Homo sapiens: one gene and its partner. The protein of the gene in region 1 purifies or fractionates together with the protein of each later gene. This does not show direct contact. Each region holds a gene or a part of one and is shown in the gene's direction. Other genes may lie near its edges.

Region 1 (3,990 bases):
GGTGGGCATAAGGTCCAAGACCCTCTGTAGCAGAGAAAGAAAACTGATGAATCATAAAAGCATCTGGCTTGCAGTCTGGTAATAAAAACGGTATATATATATATATATATATATATATATATATATATATATATATTTTATCTTTCATACTCCTGTTGTTGCATTTTTAAAAAACTGGCTCTTAGATGTCCAGAATTGTATCCATCATATTCTTGAGGTTCATGACACATCCTCACAATTGGCTCATATACTGACTCAAATATTGTTGACTCATAAAAATTCAGGTTTTGCCTTCTCCTGAGAAACTGAAGGATCCAGCAACACTGGGTCTGTTTCCCTGCAGGGAAACCATTAGCAGCTGCTCAGAGTGCTGTCCCTCTTTATACTGATCTCTGTTGTCTCCTGACCAAGAGGCTTCATGTCAGTTGATGTACATCATTGGGCATGAACTGTTACTTTTCTAATAAAATAGAGATAGCTGTTTTATTGCATCTACACCATCCATTTACATTACCTGCCTGGCAAGCGTCATCTGAGTTTGAGAACTCTGCTCTGCTGGGCAACCCTTTTGACATCCCTAATAATAGCTACCATTCACTGAGCCCTTATTATATGCGAGCACGAAACTAACAATTTTTGACCCATTATCTCTTTGATCTCTATAAAGCTCTATGAGGTAAGTCTGAGCTGTCATCTCCATTTTACAAGCATGGAAACTGACCTCACAGAGGCAGGTAATTTGTGCAAGATTACAAAACTTCTAAGTGGTGACACTGAGATTCAAACTTTGAATTCAAACCTTGGATTCAAAGCCTAAATCCAAAGCTATGGTTTAAACTTTTTTTAAAAATTACGCTGCTTCCCAGCCAATAATCTTTTAATAATAGAATTGCTGCTACCATATGGGGTTTCTCCCCCATATTCAGTCCCTGTGGTACTGAATACCAGGAAGACCCTCTTCCTGGTATTCAGTGCCAACCTGGTGCTGTTGCTTTGTTGGAGAGGGAGGCCAGGTCGTTCTGGGGTCACTGTGACTCTCATAAATTACTGATCCTGGCACTGGGGTGTGTGTGTGTGTGTGTGTGTGTGTGTGTGTGTGTGTGTGTGTGTGTGTGTATGTGTAGCTGGGCTGTCCCAGCGCTATCCACAGGGAAGCTCCTATAAAGGGCTGCATCTCTGGACTCACAGCTATCAGACCATTGAGATGTGGAAGCTGTTGCTGTGGGTTGGTGAGTGTGGCAGGTCCCAGCAGTGTCACTCAGTCCAGGAAGTGCCAGGCTTTATGAGTTCGTCATCTCTCTGGTGCCTGAGAGAGCAGCCTGAGACTCAGGGAAGCCTAGATTAGGTAGAGATGGGATGGGCCATAGTTAATGGTCAGAGGTCAGAGGGACCCAGGGAGAAGTGGTCAGAGCAGTGGTTCTCAAACCTGGTGGCCCATTAGAAATTTTAAATGCCTGAGTTCCACCTTGGACCAGTTCTGTTAGAATCTCTGCATGACCAGCCAGGATATCAGTACTTCTTAATTTGCAGCCAGGGTTCAGAACCACTGGCCTCGAGCTTTTTCTGGGACTTCTAACACTTGTCATTGTCCCTGGGCAAAGCATGAGCATATACACATGTTTATCAAAAAGAAAAGGAACTTATATCTAGCTCCACTGGTCCAACTTTAGAAACTAGGAAACGAGTAAATGGTGTGTGTGTCCCCATTTGTGTGTCTGCATCTGCATAAGGTGGTGTGTTGGTGGGCACCCTTGCTAATCAGAGGGTGTGCTGTGCCATACCACTCTGGTGAGGGTATGAATCTCTGTGTGACTCCTTCCTTTGTTTCTCACAGGGCTGGTTCTTGTGCTGAAACACCACGATGGTAAGGAAACTGTGTTTTCCCTTCCAGAGCCAGGGAGAGTCTCTGGCTGAGAAGTCCTCCACATTGAGTGTCCCCTGCAGCCCACCTTGCCCTGGCTTCTCTGACAGGGATTATTGATCCAACACAGTTTCTCAGAGGATTTTTGGTCACCTGCTGTTTGTGTCGCTGACTGTGTGCCTTGGTCCAGACTTGAGAATCTGTTCTGACCAGGATTTCACAAGGCATTGTTTTCTTCCTGAGACCTCAGCAGTGGGGGAGGAATAGAACCTCAGTGTAGTTCTGAGGTGTACTTCAGGGCCAGGGAGAGAGGATGTGAAAATGTGGCCTGGTCTCTTGGGCTGCGTTCACATTGCTTTCTGGAAGCTGAGCTCCATCCCCTCCCTTGGTTTTTGCCAACTAATGTGTGCTCTCCCTTACCAGGTGCTGCCCATAAACTCGTGTGTTATTTCACCAACTGGGCACACAGTCGGCCAGGCCCTGCCTCGATCTTGCCCCATGACCTGGACCCCTTTCTCTGCACCCACCTGATATTTGCCTTTGCCTCAATGAACAACAATCAGATTGTTGCTAAGGATCTCCAGGATGAGAAAATTCTCTACCCAGAGTTCAACAAACTAAAGGAGAGGTGTGTTCATATTGGATGTGGGGGTTGTATTTTCAGATTTCACAGGTATAAGATAACAGTCTATTTCTCCTGTTACTCTTCAACTTTCTTCTATTTCTTCCAGTCCTACCTTCCTCTCAAATAGGGGTCCAGAGCACCCCCAACTTGAGAACTCCTTGTCACAGACACCTTGAGCTCTTTCCTGCCTCCTTACTTTTGTAGTTGCTGTTGTCTCTGCCTGGAATGTGCTTCTCTCTCTTCTCTGCCTGGCAAAACCCAACTCAGCCTTTGAACCTAGTTGTGAGGATTTTAGTTATTAATGCTGTTAAAGTGGGCTTACACATCCCAAATGCTCAACAAATGCTCATGTTTTTATTACCGTTTGTTACCGGTGAGCTACTCCAGGGAAGGGGCAGTGTCTGCTGTGTTGTTGTATCCCCAGTGGCTAGGTCAGTGTCTCACACAGGGTTGGTGCTCAGTAAGTGTTTGCTTACATTTTCCTCTCTCCGGAACTCCTGGGATCTCTCTGTGCCCAAAGGAAGGCTTGTTACTGCATTAATGGTTATAGATGGGCAGAGTAAAAGTTCTATGCCACTAGATTATAAACTCCCTGAAAGTGGGGAGCTTATCTGTGTTGTTCTTTGTTCTAAAGTGCCTAAAGCAGTAAATGGCACATAGACATTGCTCAATAAATATTTGTTGAATAGGAAAAAGAGAAACATTTTAGACTGCTCTTTTTTTGGAAGCATCATAGGGACATGCGCGAGTTTGGCAGACTTTGTGCAGCCTTGGAGTTGTTGGGCTGTGATGGCCCTTGGGTTGATTGTTCTCTCTGTCTTTCCTCCTCTCTCCTGTGCTCATCATCTCTCTCCTTCTATCACCTTCCCCCTTTTCCTTTCCTTACCTCCCATCTCTCCTGTTTCCTGTTTTCTTCCAATGAGCAAAATAAAAGAATGTGGCAGCAGCTGCCCACCGGAGTGAAGAACCCAGCTCATCAACCCTCTCTCTCACATCATAGGAACAGAGAGCTGAAAACACTACTGTCCATCGGCGGGTGGAACTTTGGCACCTCAAGGTGAGACTTTGCTGTTATTCTCTTCTCCCTGGGAGGGTGGAGCAGGCTGGTTAGACGTGAAGACAGAGGGGGAAGGCAGCTTGGCCATGCGGACAGCAAAGCTAGCGCAAATACTTCCCCAACTCATGAATCTTAGACCCCTGCACTCAAGGGATATCCTGGCCTCTTCTCCATGGTGGGTCAGGGGAGACAAGGAAGTTCTAGCAGGTGGTGAGAAAGAGGCTGGGGGAAAATTAGGGACAAAATGAGGCACTCATAATTGTTTCCTCAACCTTTCATAAGAGGCAAGGGTTTTGTCTCCAAGGGGAGGAATCAGGTGCAGGATGAGAATAACTCCCAAACCTCACAGGTTTCTTCACTTTATTAGTGGATCCAGGGATATCAACCTCAAAGGGTTGGAACAGAGGAAAGGAAATAACAAAATGCTAAGCTTAGTGCTGGGACATA
Region 2 (4,021 bases), on another chromosome or scaffold:
CCTTCGTGTTATTTGGACCAAGACTTGGGCCATACCATCCATATCTCAACGTAAGGATATACAGGCTCTGATTTCTGCCTTAACTACGGAGTGTGCACAAACTACTTCTCAATCCTATCTCTGAAAACAGGAGAGGGATTTCTCTTTTTTTTTTTTTTTTTTTGAGACAGAGTCTTGCTTTGTTGCCCAGGCTGGAGTGCAGTGGCGCAATCTTGGCTCACTGCAAGCTCCGCCTCCCGGGTTCATGCCATTCTCCTGCCTCAGCCTCCCAAGTAGCTGGGACTACAGGTGCCCACCACCACGCCCGGCTAATTTTTTGTATTTTTAGTAGAGATTGGGTTTCACCGTGTTAACCAGGATGGTCTCGATCTCCTGACCTTGTGATCCGCCCGCCTCGGCCTCCCAAAGTGCTGGGATTACAGGCGTGAGCCACCGCACCCAGCCAGGGATTTCTATTGTTTTTGAGAGGGCTACCCTGTCCTATCAACAGAGAATGAGAAATAGAGCATAACCGAGCCAAGAACCCAAAATAAGGAATCCAGCTTTTCTCCTCTTGTTGACTCTGACCACAGAGGTTCCATGTAAAATGGTGAGGCAAAGAATTGAGACACTGCTTTAGCCTTATGTGTAGGGAGGAAAATGTATAGCTCTGTATCCCAGCATTCCCTGTATTCTGGACTCATTTCCTGCAGCAGTTTACTAGAAGGAGAGCACAGCTGATAGATGCACTAACTCATACATAAGAGCCTTCATGTCCAAGGTCTGTGGCATAGCCAGCCTGGGTCCTCTGCCAGGAGAGACAGTCCTTGTTTGGAGTGCCTGATGTTCATCCCTGGTCAATATCCAGTGCTTGGTTCTGGCCAGTGCTCAGTACCCCCAGTCTCAGGGTGGTGGTGCTCTGTGGAACCCCATTTAGGCTCCATGTCACCTCTTCGAGGTTTTCCAGATTAAGTCCACGAGTCTGGTGGAAAATGCCAGGCTGGCACTTAGCAGTCACTTCCCACCTCTCTCTCCTATCATAAATTTAGCAAACGTCTTTGAGCTAGCTTTCAGTAGGAAAACTACAGAATGCCCACTCTTTGTACTTTCAAAGGAAAATAGGCACTAGAACCTCATGAGACAGGCTGGCAAGCCAGTTCTGTTCCTGAACTTCTATTGTCTCAACTCTGTAGAACCCTGCTTTCCTCCTGAGTGCCGAGCACATAGTTCTTTTCCCCGCAAGGAAAGCAGGGTTGGAGTAAGTGGCCCAATGGGTCCAAGGACAGATACAGATGAGCGTTTTAAGCTGCACTGGGCTTGAGAAGGGAAGCCCTGCAGAAGTTCCTGTGAGCCCTGGAAAGGAATTCCACTGTTGGTGTAGCCTCTTCATCCTGTCCCTGGTGCTCCACTTCCCCAAACCAGGCTGCATGGGAGCCAGCTCCACTATCACCTATCTGGCTGGCTGGAGCACAGCTCAGTGTTCCTTAGCAGTGTCCACATAGGTTCCAGAGCTCTGGCCTTTCTATTCACTGAGGTGGTCCAACCACCCTCCACTGAAGAAGGTGGTCTCTCCCTATGCCACAGTGCTGTCCCCCATCTCATTCCTATGCAGGGCTTCCATGGTGAGTCATACACACCATGACTCAGCTGTTGAGCTTGATCGAGATCCTAGGTTAGAGGCCCACTGTCACCTATTTATAATTAATTATAGGCAGATTCAGGCTTCCTGATGTTCCAGGTTTACTGTAGTACTTAGAAGAGTTTCATAATACTAACCTGGTATGCTTCCCCTCCACCTTGCTGCACTCTCACACCCCTTTGCTGCTAGAGAGAGCAGCTTTGAGACTGTGGGGCAGTGTGAGCAGAGGAATTTGCAGCCTGATTGGACCTTAAAGAGGACTAGGTTATAGCCTGACTCTGTCATTGCCTTGCTGCCTGAGGATTAAAGAGGGAAGTAGTTCATGATTTCTTTATCTGGAAAATTGGGTTAGTAGCTGTTCCTGCTACCCATCCTATTCCCCGTTAGTAGGTTGAATAACCCTAACTCACTATGACACTCGCCAACTACTGCGCAGCCCTGGTTATGCATCAGAATTGCTGGGGAAGCTTTCAAAAAATACAGGTGCCTAAGCCCCACCCCAGATCTATTGGGGCAGAATCAGGGTGAGACTGGAGCCTGTGCTTTTTTTCCTTCACAAAGGAAGGAGAAAGGTTAATTTTAAAAACATAAAATTCACACACCATAAAACCATACTTTTAAAGTATACAATTCAATTTTTTTATTCATAAGGTTGTACAGCCAACATCACTGTTTCATTCCAGAACATTTTCAACATCTCAAAAAGAAACTCTGCACCCATTAGCAGTCATTCCCTGTAGCTTCCCTCATAGGCAATGGCAACTGCTGATCTGCTGAATAGAATCATATAATATGTGAGAAATGTTTAGTTTTTAAAGTTACACAGATAATTCCAATGTGCAGCCAGAATACAGAACCATTATTCATCAGATGGCATTATTAAGGACTCCGCCTGCAATGAGATTTTGTGGATTATTGAGTAAGAGCCAAGGGACCCTTCCCCCTAGGGTTTTTGGGGCCTGGATGGCTGTGTATTTGAGGGGGAGACCGAAGCCAGTAGAAGTAATCAGATGATCCACTGCTTAGTGCAGCAGCAGCTTCTCCCATTGGTGTGGGTGGGTAGGCCACATGCCTGGAGAAACACACCCCCTCAGAGCTCTCATGGCTGTCATGGGGGATGCAGAGGGACAGGCATAGCTCTTGCCCTCAAGGTGTGTATGGTCTGTCAGGAAGATGAGAAAGTCCATCTGCATTCCTTTTCCCCACCATGACTCGGGACACGCTCTTGTGGTGCTTTTGTTTGTCCTCTGTGATTGAGAAACCTTGTCCTTGAGGAGGGGGGTTTTTGGACTCTGGATCTGGGGTTCATTGGGCCTTTTTCCTGCAGGTGGCGGGAAATGTTTTTTAAAGTGAAGAAAACAGTTGGGGAAGCTCCAGATGGACCAGCCAGTGCCTACTTGGCCGACACCACCCATACCTCCTTGTACATGGTGAGGCCCCAAGGATGGGTGTAGACCAGCGCAGGGGGTAGAAACGATTTTTAGAAACGAAAGCTTTTTATTACCTTTCACAGGTGGGTTCTACCCTGAGCCCTGTTCCATGGCTCCCTTCAGAGGAATCCACTCTCTGGAGCAGTTTGTCTCCTCCAGGCCTGGAGGCCTTGGTGTCTGAACTCTGTGCTGTCCTGAAGCCTCGCCTCCAGCCAGGGTGAGTGAGGTCATCACCCCAGGGTGTGAGAAAAGCCTGCTTAGAACATCCCTGGAGGAGCAGCAGCCAGATGGGTAGTTCCTAATGAACTGGCCAGAGTGGGATTGGGAGGACCTTCCTCAAACCAGTATGTCCTACACAAGGCCACCAGGCCACTCCTTTCTGTAAGCCAATTCCCAGGCTCCTTTCCTGGGATAACCTCTGTCCTCCAGGGCTGGCTCTGGAGGAAGAATCTCCAGCAGGGGCATCTGTTTCTGAGACTGCCCTTCCCCTTGGGGAGCTCACTGGCCATCCTGCACTTTACTGCCCTGGCCCTGAAGGACACAACTCCTCATACCAGTGGCCCAGGTGTGGACGCAGATCCCCACCTCAGTGCCACCACAATGTCTCTCAATACCATTCAGACCAGTCATAACGTTGAGGTTTTATTGGCAGCACAGCAATGCCAAAGGGAATTAATTAGTCTTTGGCTGTTGGATATGCTGGATGCCCCGGCCAGAGCACCGCAGGTGGTGTGGGAGACACAGCCTCACTACATGGGGACAGCCCTGTCCTGGGGTCAGGGAGGCTCAAGGAGAGAAAAACAGGGTATCTGCTTTCTAGATCTAAGGGATCTTGTGTTACTGGGGACTCTAATGTTTGGGCAAAATGAAGGAGACGAATGTCTGTTCTCTGGTTGCAGGGGTGCCCTGCTGACAGGAACTAGCAGTGTCCTTCTACGGGGCCCCCCAGGCTGTGGGAAGACCACAGTAGTTG

Evidence for each region.
Region 2: the proteins of OVGP1 (region 1) and PEX6 purify together in Homo sapiens (affinity purification with mass spectrometry; one large-scale study listed by BioGRID and IntAct). This does not show direct contact.

What each region holds. Positions count from the first base shown.
Region 1 is NC_000001.11:111,424,936-111,428,925, reverse strand, and holds the start of OVGP1 (oviduct-specific glycoprotein precursor), read left to right. Parts: upstream 1-1,190; 5' UTR 1,191-1,204; coding exon 1,205-1,229; intron 1,230-1,834; coding exon 1,835-1,864; intron 1,865-2,284; coding exon 2,285-2,489; intron 2,490-3,486; coding exon 3,487-3,543; intron 3,544-3,990. UniProt on the Homo sapiens protein: Binds to oocyte zona pellucida in vivo. May play a role in the fertilization process and/or early embryonic development.
Region 2 is NC_000006.12:42,968,912-42,972,932, reverse strand, and holds part of PEX6 (peroxisome biogenesis factor 6), read left to right. Parts: intron 1-2,945; coding exon 2,946-3,048; intron 3,049-3,131; coding exon 3,132-3,265; intron 3,266-3,947; coding exon 3,948-4,021. UniProt on the Homo sapiens protein: Component of the PEX1-PEX6 AAA ATPase complex, a protein dislocase complex that mediates the ATP-dependent extraction of the PEX5 receptor from peroxisomal membranes, an essential step for PEX5 recycling.